Regions from separate parts of the Homo sapiens genome. Here regions 1 and 2 are each linked to region 3. Evidence: fine-mapped expression QTL. A gene starts in region 3. Each other region holds a variant in brackets. All regions are shown on one strand. Distances are between the middles of the regions.

The links.
Region 1: its variant is fine-mapped to the expression of GALNT18 in aorta (GTEx, PIP above 0.99).
Region 2: its variant is fine-mapped to the expression of GALNT18 in atrial appendage (GTEx, PIP above 0.99).

The regions. Positions count from the first base shown.
Region 1 is chr11:11,582,826-11,591,004 of GRCh38, forward strand. All of the region lies in intron 1 of GALNT18 (polypeptide N-acetylgalactosaminyltransferase 18), which reads right to left. Among named protein-coding and RNA genes, the nearest start is that of GALNT18-AS1, 17 kb to the left of the region's middle. The variant A/G (reference allele first, on the strand shown) is at 3,814.
Region 2 is chr11:11,403,707-11,411,885 of GRCh38, forward strand. The region is part of intron 3 of GALNT18 (polypeptide N-acetylgalactosaminyltransferase 18); the gene reads right to left. Among named protein-coding and RNA genes, the nearest start is that of CSNK2A3, 55 kb to the left of the region's middle. RefSeq lists enhancers at 1-731, 74-1,273, 696-990, 5,160-5,661. The variant C/T (reference allele first, on the strand shown) is at 3,840.
Region 3 is chr11:11,618,523-11,626,701 of GRCh38, forward strand. It overlaps GALNT18 (polypeptide N-acetylgalactosaminyltransferase 18), which reads right to left and starts at 3,483. Exons shown (of 11, transcript NM_198516.3): 1 at 2,837-3,483. The coding sequence starts at 3,071. RefSeq lists enhancers at 1,364-2,333, 1,786-1,925, 1,996-2,225, 2,966-3,015, 3,226-3,305 and 1 more and silencers at 2,506-2,575, 2,596-2,675, 3,426-3,785.

The sequences.
Region 1 (8,179 bases), 36 kb before region 3:
TGTTGAGTGAAGAACGGACCCACATCAGCTGCACCTCTTTCTCCAACTCCTCACCACAGCCACAGAGCACAGCCACTGCCACACACACCCCACAGAAGTGGTTGTCATGGTCCTGCAGAGAGGAAGATCTAAGATTTCCCTGAACCATCCTATTATCCCCCATGCTATTTTTATATCCCAAAATGAGAGGCATGGGACTCTAAGTCCTGCCAACACTCAACTCAGGAAGGTCGTTCATGTGCTCTTCCATAAAAACCAGGAGGGCCAGCAAAGCCTGGTGCTTTCCAGCTCTTTCCTGAGAAGTTACACTCAATTTGTCCCTTTAATGAGGTTTTTCCACAGCAGCACAGAACCAGTCTCCTGCTGAGTTATTGGTCAGGGAACACAAAGCCAATTCCACCCTGGTCTCCTATTTCTGGCAAGACCATCCTGGGGCTATTTCTCAAAGCAGCTGGTCCTTCTAGATGCTAGCCCTCTGTGTGCACACTTATATCTCATAATGGATGGTGACCTATCAGATGCCTTTGGGTCCTCCAGAGCAGCTGACCAGTGCCAAGTACATAGGAGGAGCTCAATTCATACATTCTGAATGAATGAAGAAATGTAGACTATCTGAATCCATAGGTGAAAATAAAATCCACGGGGTAAAAAGGTTTCTAGCTCTGTTTCTGGCTGGAAAGTGCACGAAAGCTGAGTTTAATCAATAAATAAGAGTTGTAGCTACTAAATTCCTCTCCACCTGGCCCCAGCAAAGGATACATTTACATCTCATTCCCCAAATGTAGGACATCCAAAGACCAGAGGTCCCATGAGACGCCACTTCTTCAAATGCCGACATTTTGAAGAACACACACCAAGATATTTCCAAAGCCCTGACCACATACGTGGTCAGGGAAAATGCTTAAAGCTTCAGCTCCTTTCAGAAAAGCAAAAATCAAACCAGACTTATAGCACTATCGGCCAGTAATGGTTAAGCTCACATGATGTGCAAGGCATTCACTGGGCTAGGAGGGAGAAATAAAGAAATAGCCCTGTCTGCAAGGAGCAGATGATCTCAATATCATTATAAGGCCCAAATAAATGAATTATGGTCTTAGACAAGTCAACGGCTCCCCACAAGATGAAAGCACAAGGTCACACTCAATGAAATAGAGATGAACTGAATTCTTGTGAGGACATAGGAATTCGAAAAGGAATGGCATCATGAGCTGGGCTGGCTGGAGACAGATTTAAGCTTTGAAAACTGTGGTCAAGCAGAAAAGAGATAAGAGGACATACGGAGAGAAGTAAAAAGGGGAAGTAGAAGAAGCGGCCCCTGAGATTCCAGGGAACTTGGTTCCAAATGGTAGGACAAGTGGGCCAGCGGCAATAAAATTAGAGCAAAGTGTCCTTCCAGCAGCTGGGGACAGGAAGCTCGAGGATAGACACTGACCTATGCCAGGAAAGGCCTGGAAGTTATGTCCAGGGAAGAAGAAAAATAAATAAATAACACCTTGCAAACACAAGGGGACAGTTTGTATTTTAAAGTCTTGGAAAAGTAAATCAAAGTAAACAGGAACCTTGGAGCCATCAGGTTACTGTTGGAAAGCTGATGGGAGATGCCGTAAGAGAAATGGGTTCCTATTCTCCAGTGCATTTCAACTGGCCATATTCTCAGCAGTGAATGATGGAGGCAGAGCTCAGAGAAGCACGTCTGAACACGTAAGGACCGAGAGGCGAGTCTTCAGTGAAACACCCACAGAGAGCCGTTTGCCCCTTGAGATTCCTGAGGAGTGTGGAGAGCAAAGAAGCAAACCCAATGAGTCACAGTGTAAATTATTCCTATTAGTCAGTGCTATCTTATAAGCACACATACACATAAAGCACTTCTGCTGCAGACTGAAGTATGAAGGTTGTCTCAAGAGAAAGAGCTTATACAATCGAGGTGGACAATGAACTACGTACTTTTTTCATGAAACACTATTTTCACTTAAAAGAACAACTGATGAACAAATCATAATTATTCATACTTGGGAATTTGGTGAACTTTTCTCAAAGTCTTGTCACTCCAAGGAAAATAAGTGATAATATTTTTCCCCAGTGATAAAATCCAAGCTTTTAAGGAAAATTTATAATTATGGAAAACTTGCCTCCACCACTATGAGCTTGACGGCTTCCCAACACCTAAAGACTTCTGATGATATAAATGGTAATATTAATGGAAGTGATTTTTCACACTGTATAATAAAATATGTCCACATTTAGAAGATCTGCCTAACTCTGTGAGCTTATCCTTTCCAAATGACTAATGTATAATATTACAAAATCATGCTTGGATAAAAGATATAAGCAAAGTACAAGGCAGACCACAGATTTTGATGTAACAGAATATAAAACATTTACTGATGTGGTTTCAGATTTCACTCCAACTTCTAGAAACTTATCACTTGTCCAGTTTGGGTGTAGTATCAAAGAAGAATATCCATAATTATCTGAAAATATTAAAATACTCCTTCTTTTCCCATCTACATATATCTGTGAAGAAAAATCTTTTTTTTTTTTTTTTCCGAGATGGAGTTTTGCTCTTATTGCCCAGGCTGGAGTACAATGGCGTGATCTTGGCTCACCACAGCCTCTGTCTCCCAGGTTCAAACGATTTTCCTGCCTCAGCCTCCGGAGTAGCTGGGATTACAGGCATGCGCCACCACGCCTGGCTAATTTTGCACTTTTTGTAGAGATGGGGTTTCTTCCATGTTGGTCAGGCTGGTCTCGAACTCCCGACCTCAGGTGATCCGCCCACCTTGGCCTCCCAAAGTGCTGGGATTACAGGCATGAGCCACCGCGCCCGGCCGAAAAATCTTTTTCATACTTCAACCAAAACAACATATCACAACAGGCTGAATGCAGAAGTAAATGTGAGACTCCATTTTTCTTCTATCAAACCAGGTATCAAAAAGATTTGTGAAAATAGAAAACAAGGCCACTCTTCTCAATAAGTTTTTTTTTTTTTTTTTTTTTGGCTGTTGCTTTGGAAACTGCAATAGACTGAATGTTTGTGGCCCCCCACCCACACACAAAAGAAGTCACATGCTAAAATCCTAACCCAGGGAGGTGGGGCCTTCGGGAGGTGATTTGGTCATGAGGGTAGAGCCCTCATGGGTGGGATTTGTATCCTTACGAAAGAGAGCCCAGAGAGCTTTCTTATCTCTTCCACCATGTTAGGATGGAACAAGAACGTGGTGGTCTGTGAACCCGGCAGTGGGCCCTTACCAAATGCTGAATCTGCTGGCCCCTTGATCTTGGACTTTCCGGCCTCCAGAACTGTGAAAAATAAATTTCTATTGTTTATAAGCCATGCCATCTAGGGTATTTTATTATAGCAGTCTGAATGGACTAAAACAAATTGTACCAAGAGTCTGTAGTTCTTTTTCACAAAAAGTGTGCTACTTATGTTAATTTATGTAATTGGGTTTATTATTGCCATTGTTAAATAAAATAATTATTTTGAAATTTTCTCAGTTTAAATTTCTATTGTGGCAAATATTAACTGATACAACCTATAGCAACAAAACTCCCTTGGGGTTTTCAATAATTTTTACAAGCATAAAGGAGTCCTAAGACCAAAAAGTTTGAAAACTTCTGGCTTAAACTATAGCTAAAAGATAGGAAATTCTACCTGTTCAGGGCCCAGCATCCATAACTAGCCCCAGTTTCAGCCTCTGTGAAGTGAGATCTTCCCTGTTGACAGGCAGAAACCACCAGGAACCCTTTTGCTTAGGCTGTAGTCAGGACATAGTTGATCTTTTAAAAAAAATAAAACGTTTCAGCATTTAT[A/G]TTTAGCTGGTATGCACTGGTTCCACCATATCAGTTCTTAAAATACTGAAATAGGCCGGGCTTGGTAGCTCATGCCTGTAATCACAGCCCTTTGGGACGCCGAGGCGGGCAGATCACCTGAGGTCAGGAGTTTGAGACCAGCCTGGCCAACATGGTTAAACACCATCTCTACTAAAAACACACACACACACACACAAAAAAAAGCCAGGTGTGGTGGCGGGCGTCTGTAATCCCAGCTACTCAGGAGGCTGAGGCAGGAGAATCACTTGAACCCAGGAGGCGGAGGGTGCAGTGAGCCGAGATCGTGTCAAAGCACTCCAGCCTGGGGAACAAGAGTGAAACCCCATCTCCAAATAAATAAATAAATAAATAAATAAACTCAAATTTCCTCCCATTTTAGAAAAAGCTGCTTTCCCAAGTTACTTGAGAGATGCTTCCAGCACCCATTATCCTGACCCCTCCCCCAGTATCCAAACCTTCCCCAAGAGCCAGCCACAAAACAGTTACTGCCTGGCACAGCAATTTGCTCTAGCACTATATGACTGGTTCTGATTGGACACTGCCAAATGCCACATTAGCTGTTTATATATTTGAATATCAACCTTCACTGGCTCACTTTCTCAGAAATGAGGAAACTTGGAGGCAATTTGAGACTTGGGCTGAAAGGGGAAGCATTCCACAGAGTTGAGCACTGGCTGGAAATGCCATGATTCCCATGTCAGTACGCCACGTATGCTGACCCCATCAGCAAAGCAGGCTTCCCTTCAAGGAATCCGTTACACACCAAATCAGTGAAGACTGCATCCCAGCTTTTCTGCAGGTTGCTAATGAGCAGTGAGCATATCCAAAGCCTCGATCTAGGAGGAAGCACTCTGGAGCTCAGCCTAGGATTTGAATACAGGAGCTTTGCAAGACCATCAGTAGTCAAGCACGGAAAATACCCTACAACAGAAAAGCTGAAGTTGATGTTTTACATGGAATGCCCTCACCAATGCTGTTTCCAAAGTTATATCCTAGAGAAGTAATACCAGTCATCAACATCAAAACCAACCTATAACAAGGAAAATTAACAGGCAACATTTCCCCTTGACTTCCCCTGGTAGGTGATCAAACTTAAAGAAGAGGGAAAAGTCAATGGTTGGTAAAGCCCACCCCATCTCTAGCCCCCACCCTTTCATTTCATGAACCTCTTCTATGGTCCAAAGAATAATAAGAACACAAAATATAGAAATCCGAAAGGAAAGAGAGAGGCAGGGGGAGAAAGGAAGCCTTTCTACTAATTCACTAAGAGTGGCATGTCTCTACCAATAAATTACAAAATAGGCATGCTGTTTCCAGCTTCCACACTTTTATACACACAAGTCCTTCTGCTTGAGGCTCCTAACCCTTTCCCCAACTTTCTGCAGTTGAAATCTACCCCATCTTTCAGTGCTCAGTTCAAATACTTCTTTCTCCATGAAAACTTCCCCAAACCTACACACCCATCTGCTCAGCTGGAAGTGAGCCATACCCCCTTCCTGGTTTCATCCCCACCAACCTTCCCTCACACTTTCTTGTCCTTTTCTTATGGCACTAGTCACTTTTCACCTTGGGAATGGATTACTTCTGTCCATGTCTCCACTCCCCTATTGGACTGTGAGCTTTTTGTAGGCAGAACTACATCTCCCCCTTTGCATGCCTCCAGTCACCTAGCAAAGAATCTGGCATTTAGTGAGTACTGTTTAAATGTCTGTTGACTAAACCAATGGATGCACGGACAAATGGAAAGAAGAAAGGAAGAGTAGGAGGGAGGGAAGGAATAATGTTACACCTTGATTCCTGTGAAGCGAGTCAATTCTGGCCTCTGTCTACTAGTCATGAATTCTCTCCCTAGATCAGACAGGTGCTGGGCTCCACAGTATCCTTTTCTTCCTTATCACTCAGCATGCTAACCAACCTCATCCTCTTCCCAAATCTGGATGAAGACTCAGGGGTGCTGTTAAGCAAGAAGAGGCTTATCCAGGTCAGCTCCAGGCTCAGAGGAAATGTTTAGCTCTGTTTCCTCTATCCATAGAGGAGTACTGCAAACAGGTAATCTGGCTTCACTGTGGATCTCAAACGCCAGCTCCTGCATTTATTGAGAGTGACTTGTGATTTGTACTTTGCCACTCTACCTTTTGATGAGAACAGATGTTATTTGTTTCTAACTCCCAGACATCTGGAACTGAGGAAATTCCCAATACCCAGTTAATTACCATCGAACAAGCAGTGCCCATTAGAACTCTACTAAAAGGGCCTGTTTTTGCCCAGGCCTGATGAAGCAGGGTCAGTTGCATCAGCAAGCAGAGTGACTGAAGTCAAAGCTGGCACAATACACTAAGCCCTATCTTGGGAAAGATTCCATACAAGGAATCCCTATGCATAGAATCACCTTCCCAACTGATGGAAGAAAATAAACTGACTCTGAAACCCAGACAAAAGAGATAATGTGTTTGGACTCTGCTGGTTAGCTCTCTGCCCCTCCCCCTGATGACCCCCATAGGAGTGGAGGGAGAAGCCAGGAAGGAAAGGGGGCTGCGTTAGTTTGCAACTTGAGTCTCCTGCCACAGACCAGTGAGGAAGTGGGGGGAGAAGTGGCTAACTCTAGCATTTTTTCAAGAATAGAAGCACATTTATGAAACCAACAGATCCTTCTTGCTTCTCTGAATAAACAAGATCAAGAGCTGTAAAGAAAAAAACCAAAACAGACAAACAAAAATACAAGCAATCTCCTTTGTCAAAGGTAACAAATGCCCACATTCCAAGAGCATCTTCACATTTTGCCGTATTGCTAAAAATGACTCCAAATATGAATCAAAAGGAAAACACTACACCATGGCTCCCCTTTTGCTGTTCAGCAGTCGTGGGAAACTGTTAGCTCCATACTCATAAGAGCTTCAACCACGAGAGGCATTCAGCAGTTTTAGGGGTTTTTTTTTTTAAGGCCTTTAAACAGCTGATTTGTACAACAAGACTCACAGCCTTGCTGAATGCTAATGACAGCCCAGCCCTCCTGGGGAGAGTGACACAGTTTGTCTATCGCCCCTCACTCCCAAGAGAGCCACTGAGCACCACATAAGCCAGGAGCTTCACAGACCTGATCCTGAGTTGGCTGCTCACAAAAATTCCCAACAACCTACTCTCAAATTTGTAGCCCAGATAGTCCATGGAAGGGAAAGGGAGAGCAGTCACATGTTTTATAGAATTGTTGGTGCCTGGAAAGAGAGTCCACATAGGCAATCACAACACCCACTGCATCCAGAGGTGCAGAACCTGAGCCAGCCATTAAAGGAGTATGAGAGGCCCTGCAAAGAATCCAGATCTGAGGTTACACAGACCTAGGTCCTACTCCTGGCTCTGCCACTTGCTACCTTTGTGACTTTACCTAGGGGTGATATTCAAATATGTAATAACCAATGCAGCATGGTCATGTGGCAGACACTGCTGTGTGTTCACTAAAACCACCTTCCTTTCTTCCAGGGAAACCAGGTAGACTACATTTCCCAGCTTCCCTTGCAGTCAGCGGCTGCTACATGGCTGATTCTGTGAATAAAATGTGGTGGAAATTAGGTGCTCCATGCGAGTCCTGGCTCATGGGCACCTCCATGCTCTTTCCATGTTCTCTCTCCCCGTATCTGCCGATTGCATGCAAGGGGTCACGCAGAAAGCGACAGGGCCCAAGCCTATGTCCTTGGATGGAAGGAAGGCTGCAGGCCCACAAGGAACTTCCACATTGCTTGTTGGGTAAGTGAGGGATATTTTCATTGTACTGGTTAAAGCCACTGGTTTGGAAGTTGACATTAAAATTAACTTTCCTTACTCTACCTATATTAGGCACCAACCAATCAGAAGGACACTGGCTGTTCTGCTGCATCAGTGCAACAGGGATATACTAGTGAGATATCACTCCCAACTTGCTTTTGAATCTGTTTCCTCATTGATAAAATGAGCATGTTACTGTCTGCTCAACAAGGATGCTGTGAAGATTGACTTGAATCTTGTACAGTCACCCACCGCATGACGTTCGCTCAATGACAGAACACATATACAATGGTGGTCCCGTAAGATTACAATGGAGCCCAAAAATTCCTATTGCCTAGTAACATCACAGCCATCCTTATGTCACAGCACAATGCATTCCTCAGGTGTTTGTGGTGATGCTTATGTAAACAAACCTACCGCACTACCGGTCATATAAAAGTATAGAACATACAATTATGTACAGTACATAATCATTGATAATGATGATCAACAACTATGTTACTGGTTTATGTATTTACTATATTATATTTTTACTATTATTTTAGAATATATTCCTTCTACTTAATTTTTTTTAAGTTAACTGTAA
Region 2 (8,179 bases), 210 kb before region 3:
GGTTGCTTGGTAGACAGTAGCCTTGCCTCACCCTCAACTGTGCTGTGAACTCTGCTAACTGCTGTGCCAACTCTCCCCCTGGCCAGGTACAGGAGAGAGTGCTGACGGTCTGTGGGCTGTAGGACACAGTGCTCCGTGATGCTGCAGAAGAGGGTGAGGTTGCTCCTTGTCCTTCAGTTTAATTGCTGTGGATGGTACAGAGGAAACCCAGCCCTGCTGCCAGCAGCTGTAACTGCTCCCCCTTAGATGGTCGGAGGATCCCTGTCCTCAATTCCTGGCCCCTATTCCAGAGGAGTCATGTGCAGTGGGCAGGATCCAGGCAGCCTGGCTCTTCTGAGGGAGCTGTGCCCAGAGATACCAGGCAAATGATGAGCGAATGCCCCGCCACTTGCTGGCAGCAGGAGGAGAGCATTCCCATGTCTCATGGGCTCCCCATGAAACGGGCTTTCTCTTCCGTAAAGGAGTGAGTGTCTAGGGGAGTTCATGCGTGCACGGCATGGAGCCAATTATCGCTGCTCCAGGAAATGGGGATGGCATTGATCACTGAATTCCCCAGGGGAGCCCTGGGCTTCAGTGCCAATGCCTCTGCCTCACCATCCATCTGTGAATAGGGGTAAGACAAGCGGGTATATTAGTTGGATTCAACTTCGGCTGCTTTTATTCTCTCACCCTCCCTAGGGAAAGCAAATGCCCATGAAATTTAGCAAGGCAAGAGGAGCAGGAGCAGGAGCTGAAGCACTCAAAGGCTGATGTAAGCCCTGGCCCGGAAGGAGTTAAGGATCAAACGGCGCCCAGGGAGTGAGCCAAACATTCCATGTTATAGAAGTAAGGAGAGTCACGTGGGAGGAAAATGTCTGAGTGTATCTGAACCACGGCTCCATCCAAACCTAAGCCCTCCGCCCCACCCTGCGTTCTGGAATTCCTCTCAAGCTTTACTGCCCGCAGCCATATTCTCATTCAAATGGGACTCTCTCTGTCTCAACTCTCATTTCAACCTAACTCTGACTTCATCTCAACCTTAACATCCTTTTGACCTCAACCTTCCTCCCGGCTCCAGCCCCGCACAGACCCTGACCATACCCTGGCGACTCCATCAGCTATGATTTCACCACCACCTGGCCTCAACTTGAACATGCCCCAGCCACACCTAACCCAGACCTCAGCAGACCCGGACTCCACTCCCAGCCCATGGCCACCCAGGCCAATCATGTTTCCTAGAGCAGAGCATGAAAGGGGTCCCGCCTGTCATGGGGGAACAGATGAAGCAACAGAGCTGCTTTGCTGTGCTCTGTGTTTCTCCTTCCTATTCTCCCACATAACTGTATGTCAGGTGGCCAGACACCTTCTTGTACCTTAGAGAAGTCAGACTCAGTTACCTGACACTTCTGTGCCTTGAGCCCCGGCCGTGGCAACCTGAGTCAATGGCCTCCACTCTTATTTCTCTCCACTCTGTGCTGGGTAATGGGAGGCAATGTGGGGTGTGGGTGGTCAGGGCAAGGTGGATACAGGAGACAGCTCCTCTTCCCTCCCTTAGTTTTAGATTTCTAGGCTGTGAAGGAGACTCATGAGAAAACCACGGCATCACTGTTAAAAATCATTTGGTTTTATTCCCACTACACTTATATTGTTTTTAAGACAAAATTAAGACCATGGTTATCTCCTCCACAGAGACGAGTTAAAATAATCCTTTTCAAAGTGAATTTGAAGTGGCTAGACTTTGGAAGGAATGAGATGGAGGTGGAAGGGTGTCGCAGATTTTCACTGACTTGGAGGAGGAGGGTACTTGTGCACATGAGTCTGGGGTTCAAGGTCTCTTCTTCCATGGGCTTTTGGATTTAGAGCAAAGAGAACCACATAGAAGCAAGAGGGCTCTTTGTCAGGGGCAAGTCTCAGAACACAGGAAAGGATCACATTTTCTCCTTAGGAAAGTTAGAGAGACGCGCCGAATGCAGACCACAAGTGGGGGCCCTCTGAGGGCGCCTTTTGTCCAATCTGCAAGCTGGGAGATATCTTTTCAATGCCTAGAAGCTATCAGATGGAAGAGAGCAAGTTCACGTTTCCTGAGAGTGAGAAAAGTCAAGATTACTCATGCAGCGATGGGTAAGAGTTCTATGTGGCAAGGAGGACATATGGGTGTGTGATCCTTCCATGCTATGCCTATATTCTGCATGTCTTTCTTGCTGCAGGCAGCCTTACTGCTGCACTAGTCCTAATTTGATTTTTAGCACCTTCAACATGGTCCTCTACAACAAGCAAGGTGTCGGCAGTCCTGCTGGACCAGAAGCCTCACATCTCATCTCACGGAGGTTCATAGCAGAGAGATCGGAGAGTCCCAAACAGCTACATGAGGATAAACATTCCCCCACAGTGTATCTCCCTATTGTGATTTTCTCCTTGTGAACTGTGTAACTTATATCATCATCTTAATAAAAATATATCTGTGAGAGCAATTGTATGTCATTGAATTTTAAAATAATAGCCATATTTTCCAAGCACCTACTATGGGCTAAGCATATAGCCTGGGTTAGTGGCTGCCAGGGCTGTTGTAGACAACCCTCCTTTGGTAGGTAGGAGGATAATCATCATAATGTCTGCAGTTTCTACAAGATAAGAGTCTGTTGTAATGACTCAGCTCAGCTGTTTATTGTACCTTTTCTGGTTTTCCACCTTGGTATCTGGTGACAACTATCAAATTACAGTTAAAGGTTGAAATATTCTGTCTCCATAGGGCTAACTTTTTATACTAAATGAACTGAAAGCTGGTAAGTATCACAAAACGCTGATATTTCCAGCCCCCTGTCCATCTCCAAAGTCGCTTGCAGAAATGGTTCGACATTTATGTACTATTTCAGCCATGTTGAAAGGAAGGGATGGTTCCCAGTTGCCATTGCAGTACAATAAAGGCAAAGTTGAACACCAGGGACCCAGAGGGTTAAAATGCCATACAAGTCGGGGCAGTATACCAAAATAATTTCAAAATGTGGCCAAAGCCATATTCTGGAATCACAGTCATCAAAACAAATATGATAATCAGAATACATGGGAGATGCCTGAGATAAAAGCCAGCAGAACAGAAAGGACATGGGAATTATCAAAGTCAAATATAGTCCAGGGTCATGTCCTTGGCCAGTGGATGTTCCCATCCCCGCCCTTTTGGAAGAAAGCCCAAGGCCTTGCCCCATAGGTGTGGGTCTTCAGGTTCTTTGCAAGAGGGTGAGGCCAGGAGGAATATTATCCCTGGAGGGTTTGCACTGAGGTGAGGGTCTCGGGGCCAGGTTGGACCAGGAGGAGGCCTTCCTTAGGACAGCTTAGAATAGCCTAAGTGGAGAAAGAACCTACTCAGTTCAGGGAGGAAGCAAGCTCATTGCCAAAGTACTGAGCCTAATGGATTTAAACCAGCAGATTGCCAAGCCCAGGACTTGGGAACAAGCTGGGATTTTACACGTCATAGGCAGAGACAATGTGTTCAGGCCAAGGCCGTAAAGGGGAGGAGTGCCTGAGGATGGCTGTGGATGGCAGGGGCTGGTTTTAAAGGTTGGCGTGTCCAGCTGACAGTCATCCTTCTTTGCAATCGTGTGGCTTTCTGACAGACCAGGCAAAAGGCTGGTGCTGAATCGCTGAAAGCACCCTCCAATCAGATTAGCAAACATTCCCTTGAGGAAACAGACCAGGCCACTTCTGCAATGAAGAGGCAATTAGGGAAGCTGCCTTCCCCTGAGAGAGCCACCACCGCTGAGACACAGCCTGTGCCACTTCAGCACACACGTCTCTGTTCTGCAGAGCCAGAGATAAATAGCAAAGGCCACTGGGCTTCAGCCCCATTTATTATTATTCAGAAA[C/T]AGCACTGCGGAGTGTTCTCAAAGTCAGCTGCATGATGTAGCCAGCCAATGCTGCCAGATGATTTAGGGGACAGGAGAGGAGATATTCCCAGTAACCGTGTTATCCCAGACAGTCAGGAGGCACTGCAGGACAAGGGAGCTGCAAAACTTTATTTGGCCACTGAACTTAATAAACCTAAAAGGAGGGCAAAGGAGAAGAGGGAGCATGGCCAAACAAAGGTTTGGAAAGCTAAAGGAAAAGGGACCAGATCCCCTGGGATTACGAGCAGCAGGAGTAAAGAGCGGCAAGCCATGGCTGCTCCACAGAAGAGAGGGAGGGAGGCCAGGGCAGAGCTCCCAGCTGCCTGTTGGATGCACCGAGTGGAGGCCCCACCCGCAGTCATTCACTCCTTGAAGCAGTGTGTCCTGAGCGCCCTATAAGAAACATTGTGTCTAAGATGTAGCCCTCTCCCTGAGGAGTTTACAATAGAGCTGCCCAGAGAGAGAAATTATACAAAACAGTAATCAGAAAACCATACATTAAAAAGTATATACTACTGGCCAGGCGTGGTGGCTCACGCCTATAATCCAAGCACTTTGGAAGGCCAAGGCAGGCGGATCACTTGAGGTCAGGAGTTTGAACCAGCCTGGTCAACTCGGTGAAACTCCATTTCTACTAATAAATACAAAAATTAGCCGGGTTTGGGGTCGGGCGCCTGTACAATCCCAGCTACTTGGGAGGCTGAGGCCGGAAAATTGCTTGCCGGGAGGCAGAGGCTGCAGTGAGCCAAGATCGTGGCACAGCACTCCAGCCTGAGTGACAGAGCAAGACTTCATCTCAAAAAAAAAAAAAAAAAAAAAAAAAAGGAATATACCGCCATGTGGCCTAGGGGAATGTTCCTCTCAATGAACAGATCAGAGAGCACCCAAGATTTATGCAGAGAAGACTCTGGAAGAAGGTGAGTCGGGCAGAGGAGGCATATGCACACCAAGTCGCATTCCTGCCTTCCAAGAGTCGCCGTCTCTTTGGGGTCACCTGTTGTGACTCCTACTCTCCCACTTAAACAAATGTTTCTTATATAAAGGAAAAGAGGCTGCCCCCTCAGTCTCTGTGGGGAACTGGCAAGGCACCCACACCTGCATCGTAGGCAGGAGGGAAGGTCTATTTTTGCTAGGACCCAGTGCTGATCTGACATGCTAACAGCCCCTACTGGGCCCAAGTCAGTTTCCATGGCGTCTGGAGCCTCCACCCTCACCCCTGACCATAAGTTCCTTGAAGACACAGGATGAGTATATATGGCACAGGGCCAGGGTCAGAGCAGTGCTCTGCAAAGGAACCACTTGATTTGGGTCAGTGAAAAACTACATTCCTAGGCTGTTCTCAAGGCTGACACGTGAGCCCAGATGATCAGGCTCCAAAAGGCAAAACAGCAGCAACCCACAGACACATATGTGCGTCCTAATCACCAACTCCTCCAACTTTGACGTGGTGGTGAGGCATTGAGGTGTCACGATGTATTTTTCAAGGGAATGTGTCTTTAATTAAAAACAGCCCTGGTACCACAGGCTAGAGGTGAAACCAGCATTTCCTTCCAAATGCTACCAACAGATGCCACTCCCTGCTGAGGCGTGGGAGGCTGGTGGCTGGTGGCCTTCTGCCCACCTGCTTCTAGCTACTGGCTCATGGGGGCAGCCAGGATGCTCTTCTCCCCAGCTCCCTGCTCAGGGTCAGCAGCTCAAATCCTGGGAAGGAAACTCAGTCAGTGTCTGGGTTCCTAGTGCGTGAACTCCCTAAAGGCAGTCTGTATCCCTGTCCTCCCACAGGGCAGGCCCAGCAGGTCCCAGAATCAAAGCCGCCTCTGCTCTCTGCACAGTCTGGTCTGGCTAAAGGGCAAGGCCTGGAGAGAGTTTGGGACTCCACCCGGCCACAGTCCTGGGACTCGTCAGATCTCTATCTTCACCACAAGCCAGCCTTCCTGTGCTCAGCCAGGTCCTCTAGGGGACCCCGGTTCCCCAAAGTGAAGCCCCATGATACATCTGTACCCAGATAACTCCCCGTATCCTCTCTGCCCACCCCCACCCCAGCTCCATGCTCTCCCCAGTCACTAGAGGCAGCTCCATGCAGGAATCTCTGATCTCAGCCCTTTCTAAAGACAGTCATTGTGCCCTGCATTTTATTCAATGTTGTCCTTGGTTCTAGCTTTGTCCCCAAATTACTATGTGAGTTGGAACGGGGAACTAATAAGGGGACTGGACCAAGTCCTGAGTCCCCTCTGCTATGTGAGTCTCAGGTCTTCTTTCCTCTGTGGGCTGACTTCTGTCTGTCTTGTCTGAGGTCACCTCTATCCCTGCTATCTATGTAAACAAAGATTAATACACAGTGACAGGTCCATAGCTAAACCTTAAACTCCATTGGAGCAACTAGAAGTTAACTCAAAGCTCCCTGCACTACCAGGGTTACGCCCTGCAGCACTATCAGCCAAGACAACAGCATGGGCTGGGCACCCTCCGCCTCTCCCCACCCTTCTTTGTCTCTCTGGACGGGGCTCCCTGGCCCTCCCACAGGGGAGGATCAGAGACAGTGGGAAACTCAGAGAGAGGGTGTTTAATCTCCCAGCCTCTCCCTGTCAAGGACTCCCTGTGCTGGCTCCTGTTTCCCTGTGTCCTCTCTCCCTTCAGGCCTGGAGTAGGAGGGATTCCTGCTGTTTCTAGCCCCAGGGTCTTGTGCTGTCCCTCCTGGCAGCTTCCTTGCATCCTGCTCACACCTCTACACTCATCTCTTGATGAAACTGCTCAAATTACCCACTTTGAGAGTGCCACCTGCTCCTTGCCAGCACCCTGCCATCAGATCCTGCGGTCGGGGGATTGAAGATTGTGTGGAATATTGGGGGGAAGGGAAGTGAGTTCAGAAGCAAACCTAGGAAAAGCCCTAACACATTTTTATGTTCATTATACTCAAATAATAAAGACAGCAAATGAATTAAAGGGCACATCGGTGGTATTTTTACATGTCTTAAATGAGCAATCAGGGGCACTGTATAATTAATTTCCATTTACCATCCTTTGCTTGCTAAAACTTTCTCAAGATTTCTCACCCCTGCAGTTTTCAATGACACACCTGAAAGTCTGCTTTGCTTTGCTGCAGATAATATGCACACTAAGAGGCATTTTCCCCTGGGTCTGGAATTTTAGTTGAACGATGGCTGTCTAATTTTATGGCTCAGAACTGGTGGCTCCTGTCTCCTGTCTTACTGCGTCTCCAGAAATGCAGCAGCCCTTGGTGCTTCAAGTGAAAAGGCCTGGGTGACCCTTACTTAACCCAAGCTGTTAGCTGTCACTGAGACAACATCTCTCAAGCCCTCCCCAGTATACATAGGGAACTATACACTGGCACCCTCCAAGACAGCCTCCTGCTAGGACATGTTAGAGACAGTGGGGTCCTGGCTTGACTCTGTCAATGCCTCCTGGGTGCCACAGCCCTTGGCAGGTTCATAGAACTTAGTGGAGGCTGGGTGCAGTGGCTCATGCCTGTAATCCCAGCACTTTGGGAAGCTGAGGAGGGAGGATCACTTGAGCCCAGAAGTTAGAGATCATCCTGGGCAACACAGCAAGACCCTGTTTCTAAATAAACAAAAATAAATTAGCTGGGTGTGGTGGTGCATGCCTGCAATCCCAGCTACTCGGGAGGTTAAGGTGAGAGGACCACTTGAGCCCAGGAGATCTAGGTTGCAGTGAGCTGTGGTCACCACTGCCTTCCAGCCTGGACAACATTTTTTTCCCGCTGTCTACACACGAGGAGTGATCTGAATATACTAGAACTGAAATCCCCAGGACAGAGGGCAAGGTTTGCAGAAATAAGCCCTTGCTTATTATAAGCCTTGAATTTCATGAAAGACATGTTCTCCTGCTTCTTTTAGGCTCCCACAGAATCTAGTACAGCTCTGGGCTCCACGGGAGCTCAATGCATCCTGATTGAGATGCTGATACATAGGGTGACCCATCTTCTTGGTCTGCTCAGAACAGTGCCTGTTTTGGCACTGAAAGGCCAACTGGGGCAGACGGCCATCCTTCTACAGCAAATCTCTCACCTGCTCAGCCTGGAACTGCTCACATTATCTTGGCATGGGACAATATTAGAGATGCTCTCTCAAGGTGGAGCATGAGATGGAGATTCCTGATTCTTAAATAAACACTTTGCCGAGGAAGGGCCCTTGAGGAATCCTGGCCAGCAAGTGAGGGAAGCAAGTCAGGGCAGGGGAAGAGGCTGAGCAAACAGCTGCACCATTCAAGTCTAGCCTCGCTCTGACCCCACAGGGAGCCCTGGGGCATAAAGCGCATCTCAGAGTTGTCCCATCCGAGGC
Region 3 (8,179 bases):
GACACCCACTTCCACCACTGTCAACAGACTCCAAGGGACCCTGGGGCCCTCCTGGGAGACAGTTTAGTACGTGGGTAAGAACTTAGACTTCTGAAGCCACACTAGCTGAGCTTACATCCCTATACTATCATATACCAGTGTGTGACCCTGGACAAATCATATACCCTCTCCCTGCCTCAGTTTCCATATCTGTAAAATGGAGCAAATATTACCTACTTCATAAGGTTGTGAAGATTAAATAAGTCAATATATGTAAAGTGTTTAGAATAGGGCCTGACATATCCTAGGTGCTATGTTATTTTAGCTCTTATTATTATTACCGCTTATTCCCTCCAGTTCAGCAAAGTAAACTGGATTGTTCAAAGGGCTATGCTGACTAGAGGGAACTTGACAGTGGGTTACACATAAACAGCTTGTACCATCAAGCACAAGAGCTTGATCTTATTGTCCTTTACCACCCTCTGCCTTCAGAGAGCTGCACTTGACCAGCCCCAAATTTTATAGGCCCTTTACCTCTGTTTCCTAAATCCCAGCTCAGGATGGCCCCAGCATGGCAAAGGGAACTGTTGGTCATTGCTACACCATCATGGCACAGCCAACCTGGTAACCTCTGCCCCTGCCTGCCTCATTTCCAGTCTTTCCAAGTCACTGACCCTTCCCTACCTTCCTATAGGTGGCAGCTTTGGCCCTCTGTCGAGATTGTGGTTATTTCTGAATACCCACAGGGGTCATTGCACGTGTACAAGTGGAACAACACGTGTTTTAGGGACCCTGTCTCCTATTTTTTTAACCTATCTTCTCCAATTTTTCAGGTATAGATTTGAAAGTGCTGAACAACACATAGTTATAAAGTTTCCGGGGAGAAAAATCACAATGCTTCCTTTCAACTTCAACATCATGCTTTTCCATGTGGAACCTTAGAAATCATGTGACATGGTCCACATTCCACATGACTGGCACCCACTCCGTTACAGGCTCAGGGGTTAATGGCATCCCCTGAAAGCATCCCCAAAGCAGTACCTTGCTCACCTCCTGCCTGACCAGAAAGAAAAGCACAAGAGAATCATTTTCCAGGAACACACACACACACAGAATCTGTGAATGAAAATCTCAAAATCTGTCGGCAAACTAGAAATGTCAAAGTAAGGCATGGCTTTGTGTCTCCTGGGGAACATTCTGAATCACCCTGGGGGAAACACTGTACTTCTATTGCTGATTAATAGTCAATCAAGACCTATGGGATGGAAAAGGACACGTAAGAAATAACAGCAACTGGCACCCACAGATAGGTAAATTGGTTTTCAAGCCCAGTGCCAGGTTGAGAGGCAGAGGCAGGTCTGAAGAAGAAGCTGTCAATGTCCCTCTTTTCTGGGAAGGTGCCGAAGCCATGGGCTTGTTTTGAAGTCATTAGTCAGGAAGCACTATGGATGTGGATGCCTCTCCTGCACTCACCTGAACCTCCCTGAACCTTCCCCTCCTGGAAAGGAACTATTCTGGACACCTGGGGAAACACCAAATTCAGACGGAGGAGCCATCTCTACTCTGGCAAGAGCAGCAGGTGCAAGGATTGGAATTCAGACATCCACGTGTAAACAAAAGGGAGTGCTCCTGGCGGGGGGGTGGGGGGTAAGCCTTCAGTTCAATTCGATTTTGCCAAGGTCTGCCATGCACTGGCCCCTGAGCCTGGTGGGCCTGCTAGGTTTACAGGGGAACCAAGCTCGGCCCTGCCCTTAAGAAGCTCACACACCTGGAAGAAAGCAGGGGGCGCGGGGAGGGGAGGAAGTGTGGACGTGAGCGCGCGCGCGCGCGCGTGTGTGTGTGTGTGTGCACACCCGGCACCAGTGCTCCTGGCGCCCGGAACTCCATTCCCTCCCATGACAGCTCATTGACCAGGTCGCCTCGGGAGAGCGCCCTGCAACCCCCACCCTCCCTTTGGACCCCCGCGCTGGTCTGGAGCGCACCCAACCAGCGTAACCTTACACTTCAGACCCAACCCAGGTCTGCTCAGCCCCGGCTGCTCCCAGGGCCTGAGAGTGGAGCTACAGTAGGGATCGGCCTTCACCCGGTCCCGGGCGGCTCCGCGGGGAAGGCGCAGCCCAGGGCGTGTTCTTCCAGTCTTGGGCGGAGTCATCACCACAGTGGACAGAGACTCCAGCGCTACTTCCCGGCGTTGACACCTGCTCCTGGAGAGGGTCCTGGACCCGCGGGCTGTGGTGGGGGTAGGGACTGCTATAGGTTCAAGCGGCTTTTCAACCACAGAGGGCTCCTTGCATTCCCTATCGCCTACCAACGGGATCACAGCAAGACTGGGGCTGGGGCTGATACAACGCAATTTTCCTAGCCTCGCTTGTCCGGCAGCCTGCGGGTCTTAACTGCCAATAGTCAGGGCCGCCGCGCGGGCATCTCGCCTGACGCCTACAGTGGCCAAAAAAGCTCGTTTGCCCGCGCGTTCCCTCTTGTACACACACAGACATTCACATGCACACACACTCTGAGCCGGACTTGTGTGCGATCCCGAGAGCCCGCGAGCAACCAGCCCAGAGTCACACGCACATTTGGACACGTGCGCAGCGCGCCCCCATACCGCCAGCTAGCTGCACACATCCGCTCGTGCAGCCCTGCGCACACACGTGTGCCCCGGGGAAGAGCGCACGGCCGCAGACAGAAGGTCCCGAACGCAGGCAGGAGCTCACACGCAGGCCCCACGACTACCACGCATCTGCGGCCCCAGAGCCCCGCCGTGGCTGAGTTGATGCGCACCAGCCCCAGCGCACCCCGCGCCGCGCGGGGCACTCCCGGGCCTCATGGGCGACCCAAGTTTCCGGGGCGCCCGTACCTTGAATGTGCTGCTTGATGACATTCTCCAGGTGGTCCAGCCGCTCAATAATCTTCAGAGTGTCCCCTTTGTCTTCCTCCAGCTTCTTGTCGGGCGCCGGCTCCTGCCCCCGCACATACACGCTGGCGATGTAGTTGGTGACCCAGCCCACGTAGAGCAGGCAGATGATGTTAGTCATGCCGCTCAGGATCACGCAAGTGGACACCAAAGTTTTGGTCTTCCTGGTGCACACCATTCTGGGCTCCTTCCTCCATATAGAGCTCCCGGGGGCCCTTCCTTGTCGTGCGCCCCGAACTCCCCCGCGCTCGCACCCCGTAGCACGTCCGGAGCCGCTGGGCACCTCAGCACCTGAGTCCCGAGGTTCTCCAAAGCCCGGTCCGCTGCCGGTGTAGCCGCCGTGCCCAAGTTTGCAGCTCCTGCCGCTGGCCACCCGGAGAGACCTTGACAAAGGAAACCAGGTGGATTTTTTTCCAAATTAAAAATCCCTGAACCCTTCCTAGAGGGGTCACGGGTAGCCGGCAGCCGCGCGTCCAGATGTGTACGTCTGGGAAACTTTGCCACTGCCTGTGTCGGCGGCCACGCCGCTTCCCATCGCCAGCGCCGGCTGCCTTGGCGGTCCGACCGGCCCGCGCTGCTAGGAGAACAGCGGCAGCGGCAGCGGCGGCGGGGAGAGCCGCGAAGCAGAGCGGCCCGGCCCCCTCCGAGCGACAAGCGCTGCCACCAATCGCGCTCCGGCTCGGGAGAGGGGCCGGTGCTGAGCGGCAGCGGACCAACGGGGAGGGAGCGGGGGGCGGAGTCCAGCTCCCAGGCCCCACCTGCTGGCCGCCCCTGGCTCCCGCCCCCAGGGACGCGCCCGGGCCTCCACCCGCGCCTGCACAGGCTGCCCCAGACCTGAAGCTCCCGGAGAGGGCGCGCTGCCAGTCCCAGCCCTTAGGTCGGCAGCTTCCTCCGTTAGGGGAATTCCATCTCTTGCTCTTGGGCAGGAATCTCCTGGTTTTGTGGAGGGGGTGGGGGGTTCGCACGGGTCAGCTTCTTTCATCCGCCCGGGGCTTCTCGCATTGGTGCCACCAGTCGACTCCTGGAATCTTTTCTTGGTTGCCAGGACGCTGAGAAGCCAAGGAAGTGCCAGCCCCAGCGGCATCCACTCCTTCCTTGGCCTCACTTGGGCCTCCACCCTGCCCTCTGCCCTTCAGCCACCGGCCTCCTGAGTGTGTCCAGACCTGGCCCTAAACCTGGCTGAAAGGAGCCAACCCTCCGGCAACCTCCCAGAAGCAACATTGGTGACCTATTAGATGACTCTCTCGACCACTTCTTCCCCCCCCCCACCCCCCACCCCCCACCCCCACCGCCTGCCCCAATTTTTGCCCCTATCTAGGTTTTTCTTTAAGTCTGTACAGCTCCCAGGACATGGATGTGTCCTTTAAGCCCAGTTTTCATTTATGTGGAACCAGGGTCATCCAGTGCATAAAGAAACCCTGCAAGGAAGTGCCGCTGAGGGGAACTGAGGTCTGTGAACTGTAAAGCCCTTCTACATGTTGTTTATGATTGCTATCATAGAGGGCGGTGGGAGAGACCTGTGACTGAGCACAGGAGGAGGCCAGACGCAGACAGTGATACTGCTGTGTTTGTTCTTACTGCCAATGTTTACTCATATTATCCTCTTCTGCTGAACACCCCGTTCTCAGCACCTGAACGGAATTCCTTTAAACAAAGACTTTTTACAACATAGATTTCCTGCCTCTTCTCCATCTCTGAGTTGCTTTATTTTTTTGGCCTAAGCCAGGGAGGCAGCCTGCTGCATGCCCACTTTGTTGTGTGCCAGCCTTCCAACCAGCCACAGAAATACTCAGGGCAGCTCCATCCTGGGATATCTTCTGGATTCAAATGACTGGCCCCACAAGAGAGGGAGAGCACAAAACCAAAGAAAGGGCACTTTATGGCCCCATCAGCCAAGGGCCCTTCTACCAATGCTTTGTTTACAAAACCTCCCCAAAGATGCTATGAAAACAGATACCAACTAGGGACCCGGGAAGATTTCCCTTGATCCATAGCTGGAAGAGAGAACAGTGGGTGTGGGTTGGCGTGGGCTGGGGTATAGAAGGGGGAGAAGAATCGTGTGTATGGTATGTAGGAGATACATACATGAGAGGAGAGAATGTACACAATTTCTGAAAAAATCAAGGTAGAGAAATCTGCCTCCAGGAGGGAGTAAAACTTGTCTCTCCCTTTTTTCTCTTCCAGAGGTATAATCCAGCTCACAAATAAAGGATCTGAACTTTCTTCTGGTTGGACAGACTTACAAGCAATGCCCTTGAGTACAGGCTAAGGTGTAATCTTTCCTTCTGTTCTGCCCCCTCTCCCAGGAGGAGCCCTGGAAGTTCAGCCCTTCTTGGGATCTTCCTAAACCACCACAGGACTAGAAAGAGAAGGCAATACTCATTCTTTTCACATTCTTAATGGAAAAAAATTAAATCCCAAGTTTAAAAAAATGAGGGTCAAGAAGAAAACAAAGTGAATTGTGTGATCTTAAATTTTGTACAGCTGATCCTCTAAGATAATGTGTAACTGTAGAGGGGATGAATACAACAAAAGAAGAATGCTGAACAGGTTCTCCTCTCTGAAAAGTCACAGGTTTGAGTTGACCTGTTCAAAGAATTTTCTCTGGAGGTGCAGGCAGACTCCAGGGTTCTAATCCCAGATCCACCATGTATTAGTTATGAGAGCCTGGACACATTTCAAAAAGTCAGTAGGGCTCAATTTCTCCCATGTATCAAATGTAGGTAGACAATACCTTACTGAGGACAGGCTGTGAAAATTAACTGAGAGAATGTTCCAGAAAGGGCTTTAATTAGTGCAGGACACATAGTGAGTGGTTAGGATCATGTGAGTTTCCTTCCAGATATGGTCACTCCCTTTCCAGGCCAGAGCTCAGCTCCGTGACCTCCATCCTGCTGTTTAGCAATACTTGGTTTCTCTACCTACCAGTATCAGCCCTCTCTCCCCTAATGGAAGCTAACAGGAACTAAAGCTATGAGCACCAAGGGGCTCATCTCATCGTCGCTAGCTGGGCTCCAGCACATTGGCTTTCTATTCATAATGTCTGTCTTCACCATCAGTAGTACAATGATCTGCATAGGTTGATAAAATATTCAAAATGAAAGGCTGGTTTCTTCAAGGTACTGGTCACCCCCAGTACCTTCAACTTTTCCACTCAAGACCCCTAATCCCTTGGTTGCAAACAAAGGAAGTGGGAGGGGGCATAAAGGCTTTGCTCACAAAGATTTTGCAGTCACAGGTCAGAAAAAAGTCTCTTTGCAAGCTCCCTCGTAAACAATACCTGGGTAGCAATTCATACCTTTAGTCCTGAATTCAGTTACCATACATCCAATCCTACAAGTAATGGTTGTGCTCCTGAGGTTTTGTGTAAATGACCAGTTGTCCTAGCCTCTGCCCATTTTGCTCCAGATAGGTAGATCCAGTCTGAGTTTCATTGTGTCAATACGGGCCTCTTTTCTGAGCTCAGGAAGCTGCTAAAAATCATCCTTGGATTGTAAGGATGTTTCTGATTCCCAAGTTCGGTCATTTATCTAACTCCTAAGTGTTTCCTCTCCTTTACTTTAAATAAATCCTGCCTCCTGCTGGGGATCATTGTGAGGAGTTAATCAGATAATAGGTGTAAGCAGGCCTAGCAGAGACTCCAGTACAACGTAGTTCTTCAAACTTATCCTGAGAGTTAGAATCTAGGGTCTCCTTTAACTCCTGCCACAAGAGGAGAGTGAGTGCCTTGAGGCATATACAATGGGGCTGAAGATTCTTGATAAAGCTTATCTACTACAGCCTCTGGATTTCACCCATCTTTTACATTGGGTAGGCAGCTCTTCTCTTGATGTGACTGAGGGCGAGCTGAATAGGACTTCCTACGCATAAGTACCACCACACTGTGACTCCCCCAACACTAAGCCTTCATTCAAAATACCTTTGATACTAGAGTTAGAGAAGGCCAGTCACTAATGGAATTCAGCCACCAACTGATTACATTCTGCATAGGGTACCCTGACCTGAGGTTTAAAGACGAACAGTGAACCAGTCTTGGCCAATGGCCATTCACTCTTCAGAGAGGGTTGTCAGTGGTCATCTGTACCTTCCAGATGGCAGCACCATGCAAAGCCTTGGGGCCAGAGTGTCAGGATTTGGGGGTGCTAAAGGATAAAAACAGGCCTGGATCATGGAAAGCCTCAATCCCTGTGCTGGCTGCATGGGAATTGGGGTTGCCAGGTTCCTAGGAGAACAGGGATTGTTGGCACTTCCAGCAAGGATGGATGTATGGTTCAGAGACAAAAGCTACAGAGGAAAAGTAGGGCCAAGATTGGATTTTGCCAAGCTACAGGTCTGAGATATCATTAACAAAAAAGGCACACTTCTTGGGGAGGGATGGTAAATGAAGAGAGAAACGTTTGTTTAGTGCCTACGTTGTACCAGGCCTAGTGTTTTTCATGTTCTCTCTTGAGCACAGATTACGGAGCCAGACAGCTGGGTTCATATCTCAGTTCTGCCGTTTATTAGCAGTATGATCTTGGGAAAATTCCTTAACCACACTGTGCCTCAGTTTATTCATCTGTACATGGAGATAATACTGATACTGCTTACCTCACGGAGAAGTTGTGAGAATTCAATGAATTAATGTGTACAAAGCACACTAAAGGCACTACATGTATTGGCTATTGTCATTATTGCTGTCTCTGAGCACCAGAGTATCTAACATGCAAATGAATGGAGGGAAGACAAGCCACCCAGAGGGCACTTTCCTCTAACTAGGGGCAAAGGGTCCTCTTGCTCCTCTTCTGTCACCCTATTTAAGGATCCAAAACAACTCCTAGCTGAGTTACAGGGCAAACCCTGGCCGGAATCCAGCAACAAGACCCATCTAACCCTCTGTCCATTGATTCATCCACTAAATATTTTCTGAGTGCCTGCTCTGTGCTAGACCCAAAGCTGGGTACTGGCAATACAGAGGTGACTCACAGACCCTCATCCCTGCCCTCAAAGAGATCACTGTTGAATGGATGAGGCCAAAAAATAAACAACCATAATACAGTAGGATAAGCTCTTTTCTGAGATATTCTATTAATATGAGAAAGAAGGCACAAAAAGTCAAGGGAGGTACCAAATTCCTCCCTAGCAAGTGGTTATGCAACTTCTGAACAGCTTCACTTCCATTCAGTCACTGGACAATGCTGCTGGGTAAAAATTTCTTCTTTAGACCCGGAGGAAAATATTTGCAAGATAGTTAACAGACCAAAGATTGAAAACCAAAATATATAAAGAATTCATATAAGCCACTAA